2 separate regions of the Homo sapiens genome follow, and region 1 is linked to region 2. A link means that fine-mapping ties the variant in region 2 to the expression of a gene that starts in the linked region. Tissue or cell type: whole blood. Region 2 holds a variant in brackets; the other region holds the start of a gene. All regions are shown on one strand. Distances are between the middles of the regions.

Region 1 (8,000 bases), 110 kb after region 2:
GAGAGAGCTCCGACAGGTGCTTGAAGGGCTTTTGGCAGATGGGGCAGCTGTAGGGCTTGTCGGCCTGTTCAGCAGGGGTGACAGTGGAAGGCGCGGGTGCTGCGGGAAGCGACGGGGCGGCTGTGGTGGCTGGCTCCGCTGCCTCAGCTGGCTTGTAGGTCTTTTCACAGATGGAACACTTCACCAGGCCACTGTGGGAGCTGTGGTGCTGTGCCAGTGAGGTGAGTAGTGAGAAGCCCATCTTGCAGACCCCACAGACGAAGGGCTTCTGCTCAGCCTGCACGCACTGGTGCTCCAGCAGGTCAGTGGCCTGGTGGAAGATCTTGAGACACTGTGTGCACTGGAATGAGCGGTCATGGCCCGCCAGACACTGGTGCTCATGCGGACTGGACAGGTGCGCCAGGTCGTGACCACACACGCCACATTTGGGGCCTGGCTCTCCTGCTGCCTGCAGGGGTGCGTGTTGTGGGGGCTGCAGGCCGGGGTCTGGCTGCAGGAGGATGCCATAGACGGCACAGCCCAGGGGGTTCTCCGCCGTGCCCGGAGGCAGCGTGTGCTCTGCCAGGGCTGGCGGTGGCTCTGCATGGTGCTGAGGCTGCGGTGGCTGTGGCTGCTGCGGCTGCGTCTGTGGCGGCTGTTGCCAGCTTTCCGACATGCTTGGGAAGATGAAACAGGGTTTGGAGAGTAATGGCTTCAGTTTCCCGCTTCACGTGACCCAATCCAGAGAGAGAAGCTGCCCAATCACAGAGATGGACAAGGACCTCAGACAAGGCACAGAAGAGGGGCTGGTCAGACAGCCCGAGTCAGTAACCAAGCGGACAGACTACAAGGCTCTGCCTACAGGACATGGGGGCTCTTCAAGGGAGGGTCCCAGCAGTGCCGGGGAGACTCTGCCTTCCCCAGTGATCCGTTCTGTAGAGAAGAGAGAAAGTATGAGCTCGAGGAAGGAACAAGCAGCAGTTTCCTGGGCCTTCTCCCTGTCCTGCCCGCACTCACCACACCATCACAAACCACACATCGGGGAAGGCAGAGGTGCTCAGGGCTGCAGGACTCCTCCCTTCTTAGGCAATCAGAGAGGTCTGCAGCCAGCTCAGCTCCTCCAGGCAGAGGAAATGGCAGCGGCCTCCACCCCCACCCACCTCAGTGCCCCGCCCCTGGGCCAGGACATCCCAGCCTCCACAAGTCCCCTCCAGCTTCCTGCCAACCCTTTAGCTGAGACTCACAGGTGAGAGTCCGGGGTTATCTGCCTACAATACAGAATCCTCCTTAAGGCCCGCAGCTCCTCTCCTGTTGCTACCCTGAGTCTTAATACGGGCCACACCACTTAGAGCTAAGGAGGCCAGACCTCCCAGGTCTGAGAGCCCAGTGGCAAATGGCCTCTGACAGTCAATATTTAGGACAACTACGTGGAACCAAGGACCATTTCAAAAACTCTCACCTATGAGGGACTGACCACACCCCTTCAACTATCCCTGACCACAGGCCCATTCTCTCTCCGCGTGACAGGATGGGTGGCCCTACAGGAACCAGAGCCCATAGGTGATGGGGGCTAGATGAGAGGGCCACAGAACCACCCAGGCTTGATGTCCACACAGCAGAACTTCCTCACTCTGGTTCTCTCCCAGAACTCACACACACACACACACACACACACACACACACAAAGTCCTAAATCCTCTGAATCTCATAGTGTCAAGGCCTGCAGGAAAATGTAAGAAACTGCCCTGGTCTGCCTTGGCAATGCAGGATGCAGCATGCTAACCACAGAGCATTTCTCATCACCTCTCTAGAGACAACTCCATTCCCTTACTCCAAGCCTATAAAGTTCTGGGTAATTGTTGGAAGGTAAAGCCCACCCAGCCCAGGCAAATCTCTAACTCACCACTTTGTGGCAGCATGAGGTAATGCCAGCGAGAGGGAGGAACTTTCAGAGTCAGATGCAACCCACTTCCAGGTTCCCAGCTCATCTGCCTCTTACATTTAAAAGTTTGTAAGTTTTCTCCTGAGCAGAGGAAGAAGGAAGGAGAAGCCTTCACAGGACAGTCTGGCCTCTAACTGCTCTGCCAAAGAAATGTAAGAGTCAGGCTAAAAGCTGTCATCCTCAGCATCTTCCGGAAGGGAGGGAGGAGAGGAGCGGCTGCTCTGGGTGGAGGCAGCAGGTTGCTTGAGCAAGCAGGTACCACTCTAAGCCTTCTCGGGACAGAGAGGGGGAAGGTGGGCTTCTCTGAGCGCCTGTAGGTCCGCTGTGCCAACCCACTGTTTTGTTTGCTTTTTCTGGCATGAATGGCTGTCAGACAGTGTCCCCTGGCTTGGTCTGCAGCACCCCCTGCCCACCCTGGCCCTCCTGCAGCAAGGTGCAGCCAGGAAGCCTCTGTGATCACTCCGCAAAGGGGAGAGAGGAGGCAAGGAGAGGCAGGGGAGGCCCCCCACCTGCGCCCCACCCCGTCTCTTCTTCCTCCCTGAGAAACCGAATGAAAGCCGATCACCTCCCGCCGGCCCTGCCTGCAGGCCCAGCTGGGCTGCGTCCTGTCAGCCCTCGTCCGGGATGGCCCGGCCGCTGCGACCCGAGGGCGAGCCCCGAGGGCGGCCGGGCTGGAGAAAGGCCCCAGGGCTACAGGCCGGGCCCAGGAAGCGGCTGCGCCTCGAGGCCCGGCCTGGGCCGCCCAGAAGCTCAAGAGGCCGCTAGGTCGCGGCGGAGGGGCGCGGGGGGGCGGCCGGGCCGGCAGAGGAAGGGGTGCGGCGGGCGCGGGGGTGGCCCCCAGATGCGGCCCCGGGCGCCCCGCCGCTCACCTGCTCCAGGCCGCCTGCAGGGCAGGCGCGGGGCGAGCGGCGACCAGCTGCTCTCTCGGCCGCCCCTTTATTCCGGCTCCATCCGCGGCGGCGCGGCCTACGCGCGCTGCCAATCCCCGGCCTCGCGTAGCGGCTGCGGCCGGACCGGGGGCGGGGGACGGGCTAGCGGCGGCCGGAACGGAGGAAGCGACGCGCGCTGCCGGAGTAGCGGGGCCGGGGCGAGGAGCGCCGGGAGGGCGGGCGGACGGACCGATGGCCTTGCGGAGACGGGCGGACGGGCGGGCGGCGCGGGGGCCAGGGAGGCGGGGCCGGGGGAGGAGCGGCATCCCGGGCGGCGGCGGCCAATGCGGGAGGAGCGGGCGGCGCGGAGCGAGGCCGCCCCCTGCCGGGGACCCCGTGGCCGGGCCAGGTCGGACAAGCCGGGTGCTCCGGGCGGTTTTCGAGTCGCCAGGCCTGGGCGCCTCGACTAACCGAGGAAGGGCGCTCTGCTTCCGGCCACCCCGCTCGGGCTTAGGGGAGGGGGCTCCGGGTGACCGCCCTCGGCCCGGCTCTGCGCAGGAGAGGAGGGGCCTCCTAGAGGCTCTGGTCTGCCACAATTGATCCGCCCCTAACTGCTCAGCTTGGCTTTTAGGGGCTTGGACTTTGGGCTGGTTTGAGGAGGGGGCTCCAGGACCTCTGATCCTGGCCGGGCTCGGGGCAGGCAGGGGTCTCCGCTGGGTCTAGTGCGCTGACCCGGGACTGTCGTGTCTGGTATGTCTGGTCCCGGGTGGCTGCAGACAGCAGCGGGCAGAAAGGTGAGGGCCCTGAGCGATATATGAAATGGGTACACGAAGGCTGGGGAGGTCCCAGCGGGGTGCCGGGAGGCTGCAGGTGACCAGATCCGCGTGCGCAGCCGGCAGACAGCTTGGAGTCGGTGGGCTGAATCTTCACCACTGTCCTGCCGGGTTCCGCCCCTCCCGGCTCCGCCCCGAGGCGGTGCCAGCCCAGGCCCCGCCCCTGGGAGGGCGCTTCCGGCACAGCGGAACTCCGGGTGCCGGTTGAGGTTGCTGGTGGACCTGCTCTGGTGGTCTTGGATGAGGCCCCATGAGCGCGGCGCCCCTGGTGGGCTACAGCAGCAGCGGCTCCGAGGATGAGTCCGAGGACGGGATGCGGACCAGGCCGGGGGATGGGAGCCACCGTCGGTGAGGAGTGAGGAAGTCTCTCCGGAGGGCGCGCGCATTCACCCTAGAGCCAGACGGGACCCGAATGTCTGGGGGTGGAGTGGGGAGGGAGGATGCGGGGCGGCTCTGGGAAGGAAAAGGGGACGCAGGAAGAAAGGAGGATCCAGAAGATATACCCCTCCCCCCCACCCCAGACAAAGCTCCAGAGTGGCCCCACCTGGCTAGGGCCAAGTTGGGAGGCCAGACCTGGGTTCGGGTCCAGCCTCGCGCTGGCCCACTCTATCGCCTGGCACACATCCCTGTACCATCCTAGGTCCGTTTCCTGATTTGAATACAATTGCGATAGTAATACTTGCTAAAGCGTAGGGAGAGCCTTTTCATTCATCCAGTAAATATTCACTGAGCACCCACTCCCTGCCAGGCTGGGGTCTGGTAATTCAGTGGTGAACAAAACCGTCGGCCTTACTTCCTGGGGCTTAGATTCTTAAATGCTAGGCCTTATCTTTGCTGAGTGCTTTACAAGCAGTAGCTCAGTTGATCCCACAATTGCTCTATCAGGTAGACATATACTTTCAGATGAGGCATTTGAGGCCCAGAAAGGGGACATGACTTGCCCAAGGTCATAGAGCTAGAAAGTGCTACTCCAGCTGCAGCCTGTCCAGCTTGGAAATGTGACCCCTGAACCACATTGTTGCATGCCCTGTTGTTTCCCATGGGGACCTTGTGCCCCAGAGTTGGAGACCCCAATGAGACAATACTGGAGAAACAATTTCGCTATCTAGAAGCTGCTTCCAGCACCAGGCTGGAAACACACACTCAGAGCCACCATATATAAGGGGTTACAACTTTTGTGGTATATACAAAGGTAGAGAATGCTAACAGGATAAATGTACTCATTTTTCTTTTTTTCTTTTGCAGTGGCCAGAGCCCCCTTCCCAGGCAGAGATTTCCAGTACCTGACAGTGTGCTGAACATGTTCCCGGGCACCGAGGAGGGGCCTGAAGATGACAGCACAAAACACGGGGGACGGGTGCGCACCTTCCCCCACGAGCGAGGCAACTGGGCCACCCACGTCTATGTACCATGTGAGTGATGTGTGAAAGGCAAGTTGCCAAGACCCATAGACCCGTAGGTGCCTCATGAAGGGCAGAATCTGGCCCCAACTAGAAGGAAGAAACCAGAAACCTCTAACACTGGTGGTGGGAAAGTCATTGACTTAGCAGAGAAAGAGCAGGTTTCAAGAACTGGGGATTTTTCTGTCATCTTGGTTTTGAATTCGTAGCCTAAAATGTGTATTACCTCTGGGTATAATATTCTCCCTGTTCACGAGGAGGTGACCAAAGGAGAATCTGGAGCAGGGTGTCAAGGTCATGCCAGGCACTTTATTTCTGAGAGGGCCCTGGGTACGCTGGGTGTGCAAGGTTCAAATCCCACCCTAGCTCTGATCAGCAGGTGGAAGACAAAAAATGCCCAGGCTTCAGAGTCAGACCTCACTCCGCTGCCCACTACTCTGGGTGCCCTTTATAAGATACTAGACTTCTCAGAGCTTCAGTTTCTTCAAATCTAAAATGGGGGTAGCACTGGCTAGGCCAGGTGGCTCACACCTATAGTCCCAGCACTTTGGGAAGCGGAGGCAGGCAGATCACTTGAGCCCAGGTGTTTGAGACCAGCCTCGGCAACAGGTAGAAACCCTGTTTCTACCAAAAATACAAAAAAATTAGCCAGGTGTGGTGGCACACGCCTATGGTTCCCACTACTTGAGAGGCTGAGGTAGGCGGATTGACTGACCCTGGGAGGTAGAGACTGTGGTGTGCCAAGATCGCTCCACTGCACTCCAGCCTGGGTGACAGAGTGAGACTCCATCTCAAATAAGACAGTTTGGTGGCTTCTTACAAAACTAAACATACTCTTATCATAAAATCCAGCAATTACATTCCTTGGTTTTTGCCCAAAGGAGTTGCATTTGGTATTGACAGTGTTCTGGAGTTTAGCCATTCTAATAGGTGTGTAGCAATATGTCACTGTTGTCTGTTAATTTGCATTTCCCTGATGACATATGATCCAGATCATCTTTTCAATGCTTTTTGCCATCTGTGTATCTTCCTCAGTGAGGTGTCTGTTAAGGTCTTTTGCCCACTTTTTAATCATTTTTGTTTATTAATATTAATCATTTTTGTTTATTAATAAATTTTAATCATTTTTGTTTATTTAATATTATGATGTGGGTCTAATATTGGATCTTAAAATATTGAGTTTTAAGAGTTCTTTATATTTGAAATAATAGTCCTTTATCAGATACGTCTTTTGCAAATACATTTTTTTCCCAGCCAGTCGCTTGTCTTTTCATTCTCTTGACGTTGTCCTTCACAGAGCAGAAGTTTTTAAGTTTAATGAAGTCCAGCTTATCAATTATTTCTTTCATGGATCTTGCCTTTGGTGTCATATCTAAAAAGTTGTCACCAAACCCAAGATCATCTACATTTTTCTCCTATGTTATCTTTCAGGAATCTTACAGTTTTGCATTTTACATTTAGTTCTGTGTCCATTTTGAGTTAATTTTTGTGAAAGGTGGAAGGTCTGTGTCTAGATTCCTTTTCTTATATATGGATATCCAGTTATTCCAGCACCATTGGTTGAAAAGACTCTCTTTTTCACATTGTATTGCTTTTGCTCCTTTGCCAAAGATCGGTTGACTGTATTGATGTGGGTCTATTTCTGGGTTCTCAATTCTGTTCCATTCATCTATTTGTTCACCAATACCATTGGTGAACTGTTTTGATTGCTGTAACTTTACATAGTTAAGTCTCGAAGTTGGGTAGTTTCAGTCCTCCAACTTTGTTCTTCTCCTTCAGTAGTGTGTTGACTATTCTGGGTTTTTTGGGGGCTTTTTTTGGTTTTTTTTAGAGATAGGGTCTCACTATATTGCCCAAGCTGGTCTTGAATTCCTGGGCTCAAGCAATCCTCTGGCCTCAGCCTCCCAAAGTGCTTGGATTACAGGGATGAGCCACAGCACTTGGCCTGTTTTGGTTTTTTACCTCTCCATGTACACCTTAGAATCCGTTTGTCAGTATCACAAAATAACTTGCTGAGATTTTGACTGGGATTGTATTGAATCTGTAGATCAAATTGGGAAGAACTGACATCTTTACAATATTGAATCTTTCTGTCTATAAACATAGAATATCTTGTAGGGTCCAGCCCCACTGGGTCGGTGGGTTTTCTCCCTGTGTGCGGAGACGAGAGATTGTAGAAATAAAGACACAAGACAAAGAGATAAGAGAAAAGACAGCTGGGCCCGGGGGACCACTACTACCAAGACGCGGAGACCGGTAGTGGCCTCGAATGCCAGGCTGCGCTGATATTTATTGGATACAAGACAAAGGGTCAGGGTAAGGAGTGTGAGCCATCTCCAATGATTGACAAGGTTACGTGAGTCACGCCACTTGGACGGGGGCCCTTGCCTGCCTGGCAGCTGAGGCAGAGAGAGAGAGGGAGAGAGAGAGGACAGCTTACACCATTATTTCTGCATATCAGAGACTTTTAGTACTTTCACTAATTTTGCTACTGCTAGCTAAAAGGCAGAGCCAGGTGTACAGGTGTGAAGGCAGACTAGGAGCATGACCACTGAAGCACAGCATCACAGGGAGATGGTTAGGCCTCCAGATAACTGCGGGCGGGCCTAACTGATGTTAGGCCCTCCACAAGAGGTGGAGGAGCAGAGTCTTCTCTAAACTCCCCTGGGGAAAGGGAGACTCCCTTTCCCGGTCTGCTAAGTAGCGGGTGTTTTCCCTTGGCACTGACGCTACCGTTAGACCACGGTCCACTTGGCAATGGGCATCTTCCCAGACGCTGGCATTACTGCTAGACCAAGGAGCCCTCTGGTGGCCCTGTCCGGGCATGACAGAGGGCTCGCACTCTTGTCTTCTGGTCACTTCTCACTATGTCCCCTCAGCTCCTATCTCTGTATGGCCTGGTTTTTCCTAGGTTATGATTATAGAGCGAGGATTATTATATATTGGAATAAAGAGTAATTGCTACAAACTAATGATT
Region 2 (8,000 bases):
CACAAACATGATAATTCACCAGACGCCTCTGACACGCGCCAGCTCGGCACTGTCCCCCATGTTATTTGAGTCCATAATTCATGATGTGACAGCCCACAGGAAGGCTGAGGGTGCTGTGAAAATGAACTATCTTTTTCTTTCTAACAAAATAACTATGTATAGGACCTTTGCTGATTGCTACTAGCTGTCTCTGTTTGGAAACATTGAGCTAGCTTCTGGGGCATTTCCAGATTAGGGAAATTTGTCCTCATTTTCTGATGATGTATGCTTCCCTGTAACTGAGATTGAGCAATCAGCCTGGAGCAAGTGACCCACATAAGACCTCTTCATCCTCTTTTTTGGAGTGGTCAAGCCGGAGATCTCAGCACTTCACTTCTTTGGGGACCCAGGTCCCCCATCTGCAAAGCAGGGAGCTTGGACAGAATCCCACACGTGGCCCTCACCAACTCAGATGTCCCCGGGACTATGGTTCTCAGACAGTGTATCTCCCCTGATGAGCAGAGCTCATACACAATCCCCTGCCTCTCTGGTCAAGCTGGCCTGGCCAGCAAACAACCACTCTGATGACTCATGGCTGAGACCCCCATTCCCACGCCCCCCCATGTTGCTGTGAGGCCTGTTAGCCCCATTCCTTCGCCTGGCTGCCTCCCACCCACACCTCAGCCTTCTCAGTGTGGACACAGGTGCACAGGCACTGTCAGGAATGGGGGCCTCTGCACAGCTCTTGGGAGGTGCCTTTGGGGTCCCATCTGATTTGCCAAACTCTTGCCTAACCCACCCAGCAGGATGGGTAACAGCTAAAAGCATGGCTTTCCTGAGCTTTGCTCCTCCTGGTGGGGGTGGGGGCAAGAAGAGAGGGTGGGGAGACCTGGTACCAGTTTTCAGTCATAAGCAGTTGAATCTCATGATTTGTAGTAATTATGTCCTATAAGATCTCTGCGGACACTGAATTAGCAAAAATGGAAACATTGTTCCTAGGGGAAATACAAGGCTAGATTCCTACAAATCTCCCATCACAACATTCATCAACCATAATACATGAACTTGGCCAGGCGTGGTGGTTCACACACAGTCCCAGAACACTGGGAGGCCAAGGCGGGAGATTTCTTGAGCCCAGGAGTTCGAGGCTGCAGTGAGCTATGATCGTGTCACTGCACTCCAGCCTGGGTGAAAGAGCACGACCCTGTCTCTAAAATTAATAATAATAAACTTGTCTTATGTGTGTTTCTTTTTAAAGACATTATTATTATTATTATTTTGAGACAGAGTCTCACTTTGTTGCCCAGGCTGCATTACAGTGGTGTGATCTTGGCTCACTGCAACCTCTGCCTCCCAGGGTCAAGCCATTCTCCTGCCTCAGCCTCCCGGGTAGCTGGGATGATAGGTGCCCATGACCACGCCTGGCTAATTTTTGTATTTTTAGTAGAGATGGGGTTTCACCATGTTGGCCAGGCTGATCCTGAACTCCTGACCTCAGGTGATCCACCCACCTCAGCCTCCCAAAGTGCTGGGATTACAGGCATGAGCCACTGTGCCGGCTAAAGACATCTTATTAAATATAGATTATTGTTTTATTAACATTGAACGCACAGCCAACAGCACTGTAATTCATGCCTGAATGAAGCTTATCTAACACATATTTTCTGTGTAAGGCACATTGCAGACTTCTTGTGCTTAGGAACATGAGACGGCACTTCAGCACTATGCTGGGGGGCCATTTTAAACAGTGCAATCGCCAACAAAAAGCACAAAAATGCAAAAAAAAAAAAAAAAAAGAGTAGCATTAAATGGACCATAAAAAGACACCTCTTCGCAGTACAAGAGCTAAAACCACAAGACAGAACAGGGACTTCAGCGGGGAGCGTGCACTTGGGGTGACTCAAGTATTTTGCTGCTCTGGGCATGTCCTTGAATGACCACAAAAGCCTGTTAGTATTGATCTTGGCGTTGCAAGTCCATTTCAGTGAGGAGGCGAATTTGCAAATATGGAGTCCATGAATCACAAGGGTCCACTCTACCTCCCTGTCCCTGGGGAGAGGAGGCACTGGCACGCACCACTGATGTGGTGGGGAACGTGGGGAGATTTTCTGGGAGAAATTCAGATAGACTGGGTTTTGGAAGGGTCCAGTGGGTCCCTTGAGAGCAACCAGGTAAGGTGAGTTTGGGGGCAGCTTCCTTCCCCAGGGGACCTCAGTGTCTTGTGTGCATGATGCTTGGACATCAACACTACATCCTTTTACCTCGAAGCTGCCAAAGGGCTCCTGTGAAAACCTAAGGCACTTCAAGTCACTCCTCTGTGTAAAACTCTCCATGGCTCCCATCTTCCTCTGAGGTCTGACCCAATCTCTTCCCCTAGACTCCTCTGATCCCATACCAAGCTATGCTAATTTTCTTGCTGTTGTGCCACCCACACACTAAGCCTGCTCCTCCCCAGGGCCTCTGCACATGCTGTTCCCTCTTCCCAGAATGCTGTACCCAGCCATCAGTCCCCCAGCTCACTCCTTTGCTTTGTGCAGGTCTCGTTGAAATGCCACCTGCTCAGAGCAGCTTCCCCAACCAGCTTATCTCAGACAGCTCTCCGTCACTTCCCGCTCCTCCCGTGGCTTTGTGTTTCCTCGTAGCCAGACGCATCACATCATCGCTCATCTTTCCATTGCCGGTTCCCTGACTAGAATGTGAGTTTTGTTTGGTCCCTCCTGTGTCCCCAGAACTCAGCACTGTGTACTCGATACATCACTGTGCTGTAGGAATGGATGCTGGTGAGTTTCTTCCCTCTATTATGACAGCTCTCTGTGCAGTTTATTTATGGTGTCATTGTATAGAATGAAGGGGAAAATAAGAATGTGTGATACAAGACAAGGAGGAAAACCCAGATATGTGGATTAAAAAGGTTTTACCCAACTGAAAAATTATAGGGTGAATTTGATGGCTACAGAGGAACAATTGCTTATTTATCTGAGAGACAGGGTCTTGCTCTGTCACCCAGGCTGGAGTGCAGTGGCACGATCATAACTCACTGTAACCTTAAATATTTGGGCTGAAATGATCCTCCCGCCTCAGCCTCCTAAAGTGCTGGGATTACAATCATGCAGCATTGCGCCCGGCCTGAAGTGATCCTTATTAACATGCACTGAGCTCTCTTGTATGACAGGCACCCCACCGGAGACATTCCTGCACACTATTTAATTTTCACAGCAGCAGGCCAGGCACAGTGGCTCACACCTGTAATCCCAGCACTTTGGGAGGCCAAGGCGGGCAGATCGCCTGAGGTCAGAAGTCCCAGACCAGCCTGGTCAACATGGTGAAACCCCGTCTCTACTTAAAATACAAAAATTAGCCGGGTGTGGTGGCATGTGCCTGCAGTAGTCCCAGCTATTGGGGTGGCTGAGGCAGGAGAATCGAATTGTTTGAACCCAGGAGGCAGAGGTTACAGTGAGCCAGGATTGCGCCACTGCACTCCAGCCTTGGCGACAAAGCAAGACTCCATCTCAAAAAAACAAAAAAAATTTACAGCAGCAAAGTAGGGGTTATGAC[C/A]TTTATTTTACATAGGAGACAACTGAGACCAGAAAAGTTAAACAACTTCCTCAAAGTCACACAGCCAGCACCTCACATGGAAGGGATCTGAGCCCCGCCAGCCTCCCAGACCTATTGTGGGGTTCCTGACACACTACGTTGCCTGTCGCTCAATTTGAAACCTGATCTTAAGGGTTTGAAAACAAAAACCGGCTTTTCTAAAAAGAATGACCTGTTCCCCAACAATGCAAAATACGGATGCACACGGTTATTCGTTGCACCACTGTTTGTAATTGCAAAATTGTGGAAATACCCTAAATGTCCATTTACAGGAATGTTCTGCCACTGTGGAAAGGAATGAGGAAGCTGACTCTGCACTGATAGACAATGATTTCCGGGTTTTGTCGTCATGTGGAAACAAAGCAAAGTACAAGAATCTACAGCATGCCATATTTTGTGTAAGAAAGAAGAAGAAATAAGAAAATGTTTGGGCTGGGTGTGGTGGCTCACACCTGTAATCCCAGAATTTTGGGAGGCAGAAGCGGGCAGATCACCTGAGGTGAGAAGTTCGAGACAAGCCTGGCCAACGTGGCAAAGCCCCATCTCTACTAAAAATACAAAAATTAGCTGGGAATGGTGGCAGATGCCTGTAATCCCAGCTACTCAGGAGGCTGAGGCAGGAGAATCACCTGAACCCGGGAGGTGGAGGTTGCAGTGAGCCAAGACCTAACCACTGCACTCCAGCCCAGGCTACAGAATGAGACTTCATCTCAAAAAAGAAAAAAAGAAAATGTCTGTGGACTTGTCCATTTTCGCAAAAGTAAGCAGAGGAAAGAAAAGGCAGAAATTGATGCAACGAGCCACGTAATAATGGGAGTTGCAGTCAGGGGGCAATGGGGACAGGGAGAGTTGGGACGCTTTTCTGAGTGCCCCATTTTGCAGAGTGTTGACCTTCAGGAACATGTTAATGTTCTACATACTGAAAACAAGAAAAAGTCAACAAAGATCAGGGTGGCAGGAGCCCTAAATGGAATGTAAACTGAAACAAGTGAACCTACCTGTATTTCAAATGAATAAAGTAACCACATTAAAGGGTAGTGGAGGAAGAGAACGACTCCAGATAACTTTGAACGTAACACTTCCATCATATATACTCGGGCTAAACACAAAAGAACTGCATCCAGTACTGAACTCTACCTAGAAGCCTTACTTTTTGTTTTTACAGTGACATGGGCTGGAAATTCTGAAATGAACTTCCCTGTATTGCTCAGTGTTGGAGAAGAGATTTACAAGTATGAAAAGGGAGAATATTAGAATGAATTCTAATATGTGGTGGCAGGGCACGGTGGCTCACACCTGTAATCCCAGCAACTCTGGGAAGCCAAGGCAGGCAGATCACCTGAGGTCAGGAGTTTGAGACCAGTCTAGCCAACATGGTGAAACCCCATCTCTGCTGAAAATACAAAAATTAGCCAGGTGTGGTGGCACATGCCTGTAATTCCAGCAGAGGTTGCAGTGAGCTGAGATGGCGCCACTGCACTCCAGCCTGGGTGACAAGAGTGAAACTCCGTCTCAAAAAAAAAAAGAATGAATTCTGTGGTGCTGGATTGAAATTGTTTTATAGATAATCAGTAGAATAGACAGAAAAATTTAAGTTGGCATATACATGTATATGTGTGTGTATGTATTTTATATATACATAATATATTATATATGTATTTTTTATATATATATATATATTTGTACTTATACATCTTGGTGTGTATGTGGGTGTGTTTCTTGGTTCTGTCTGCTGCAGAGGCCTAGTAGCACTCCAGTAGCAATGACTGCTCCTAGGACTCAGATCGTGGTTTCTAAAAACCATCCCCCAGTAAAAGGAATCAAGGCTCCTTGGAGAAATGGCCATTTCCAGGATACTGCAAGGGAAGTACAAGATGAACCAGGGCATCTGGTTGTGGCTTACTGCTCCTTGAGTAAGCAAGGAAGTGCTAAAATATGACAGGGATATCACGAAGGTCACAAATGAGCCACCTTGAAAAAGTGCCCACTGGCCAAACTGGACTAATTTGAGCATCAAAATAATGATTGTTAACAGAGTATTCATGGAATCAAGTAAATCCATGCCTATATACATTGAGAAATGAATAAACAAATGGGAGAGAAGAGAAAGCTCTTCCACACAGCTGACTGCCAGCTAATAATCAAGGAGGGAGTGGAGTTACAAAATTTCCATTTTACAACTATCATAGCAATCTCTTTGTAACTATCATAGGGAGGAACCATCAAAGGATGCTAAAAGCAGTGGGTAAAAGTTTGACAGGGAACAGGATATCCTCATAGTCTGAAGGTGACTACCCACTAATTACTTAGGAATTAGGTTTAAGGGAAAATAGGTTTACAATACAGAAACCTTAACCAAGTAATCAAAGTAAAAATCATCGATATTGGGAGTAAATGGCATCGTGCGCCTCTCGATACATTTGCTGCAGAAGCGACTCACTTCTGAGTTCTTCCTGCCAAAAATGCACACTCTAATGGTAATCACGAGAAAACATCAGACAAACCCCAACTGAGGGGCATTCTGTAAAATAACTGGCCTGTATGGGCTGGGTGCAATGGCTCACGCCTGTAATCCCAGCACTTTGGGAGGCCGAGGGGGGTGGATCACGATGTCAGGAGTTTGAGACCAGCCTGACCAACATGGTGAAACCCCGTCTCTACTAAAAATACAAAAATTAGCCGGGCGTGGTGGTGTGCACCTGTAATCCCAGCTACTCAGGAGGCTGAGGCAGGAGAATTGCTTGAATCCAGGAGGCAGAGGTTGCAGTGAGCCAAGATTGTGCCACGGCACTCCAGCCTGGGCGACAGAGCAAGACTCTGTCTCAAAATAAATAAATAAATAAATAAATAAATAAATAAATAAATAAATAAATAAAATAACTGGCCTATATGCTTAAAAGAAGTCCAAGTCACTAAAGGTTGGAAAAGCCTGAGGAACTATCCCAGATCAAGGAAGACTAAGAATACTCTGCACCTTAATTACAATATGTGATCCTAGACCTGATTCAGGAATGGAAAAGAAGAAAAGGTACAAAGGATACTCTTAAAGAATTAGCAAAATCTGAAGATGGATTGTGAATGAGATAATAGTGTTGTTTCAATACGAAATTTCCTTATTTTAATGAAGGTACTAGGCCAGGCGCAGTGGCTCACACCTGTAACCCCAGCACTTTGGGAGGTCAGAGCAGATCATGTGAGCCCAGGAGTTTGATACCAGCCTAGGCAACATAGTGAGACCCCAGCTCTAGAAAAAAATTTTAAAAATTAGCTGGGAATGGTGGTACGTGCCTATAGTCCCAGCTACATGGGAGGCTGAGGCAGGAGGATCACTTGAACCTAGGAGGTTGAGACTGTAGTGAGTCATGATCACTCCACTGCACTCCAGACTGGGTGACAGAGCAAGATGTCATCTCAAAAAAAAAAAAAAAAAGATAAAGGTACTGTGGTTATGTAAGAGAAATTCATTGTCCTTAGCAATTTTTTATTAAACGAAAGAAAAGTTACATACCTGGCTTTCTTCCGGAGTAACTTCTGAGACTCAGGATAATGCACCAAAATCTCATTCAGGTCCTTCTTATCCAGGATGAAGAGGTTGGTAAACCCGTGCGCCACCACGTTGGCCGTGCGCCGGTTCCCGCCCCCAACAGCCAGCAAGCTGGGGCAGAGAAGGGAGGAAGGAGGCCCTTCAGAGACTGCCGTTTCGGTCACATTCAGATCTTCATTTCCCATGTGTGGAGGACAGTGGTGGCCCCACACAGATGAGAACCTTCCCCCGCCCCCATCCCCGCATACATCAGCAGGTGCCAGTGCTGCATCTACCAAGCCGTAGACACTCGCACTGCCCGCTGGCCGCCTTCTTTCCCAGCCCTTGCCCCAGGCCCCTCACTTTACCCCAGCTGCGTCTGACCTTATTTCTCCAAACACAGATCCAGCTTTCAGCGTCACCAGCACAGATTTCCCATCAGGGCCGCCCAAGACCTGCACTTGCCCTGCCTGGATGATGTACATCTCACGGCCGATCTCCCCCTGAAACAAAGAAGTGACAAGTCCCTCTGTTCATCCCCCAAAGTCACCAGAGAAGCAGCCAGGGCTGGATCCAGAGGCTGGAGGTCCGGCAAGGAGGAACCTAGGCACTGGGGTCCAGCCCTGCCACCACAACTTGGGGTGTCGTGTGGGGGCAGTCACTTCCCTCTCAGGCCTCAGTCACCCCATCTGTAGACTTGGAGGAGTGACTACCCCATGCCCTCCATAACTGACAGGGTTGCAGTGGGGGAGTTAGTGATGTCATGGAATGGGAAGTGCCAGCTAACCTGGGAGGTGCAGGTATAATGGAATTCTGCAAATTCCAGTTAGACTCACTGATGGAGGCAGGGCAAATCAGATAGCAGCTCCCACCATCAAATGATGTCTACACCTGGCACATCTCA

The links. PIP is the estimated chance that this variant, and not a neighbour inherited with it, causes the effect.
Region 1: it holds the start of USB1, and the variant in region 2 is fine-mapped to the expression of USB1 in whole blood (TOPMed, PIP above 0.99).

What each region holds. Positions count from the first base shown.
Region 1 is chr16:57,997,611-58,005,610 of GRCh38, forward strand. USB1 (U6 snRNA biogenesis phosphodiesterase 1) reads left to right here and starts at 3,797. Exons shown (of 7, transcript NM_024598.4): 1 at 3,797-3,971; 2 at 4,869-5,035. The coding sequence starts at 3,874. It overlaps ZNF319 (zinc finger protein 319), which reads right to left and starts at 3,062. Exons shown (of 2, transcript NM_020807.3): 1 at 1,883-3,062; 2 at 1-912. The coding sequence starts at 655. RefSeq lists enhancers at 2,146-2,415, 3,273-3,442, 3,615-3,909, 3,936-4,035 and silencers at 2,536-2,665, 2,716-3,315, 3,606-3,855.
Region 2 is chr16:57,890,316-57,898,315 of GRCh38, forward strand. CNGB1 (cyclic nucleotide gated channel subunit beta 1) reads right to left here. Exons shown (of 33, transcript NM_001297.5): 30 at 7,481-7,599; 31 at 7,082-7,228. Among named protein-coding and RNA genes, the nearest start is that of CNGB1, 77 kb to the right of the region's middle. The variant C/A (reference allele first, on the strand shown) is at 3,535.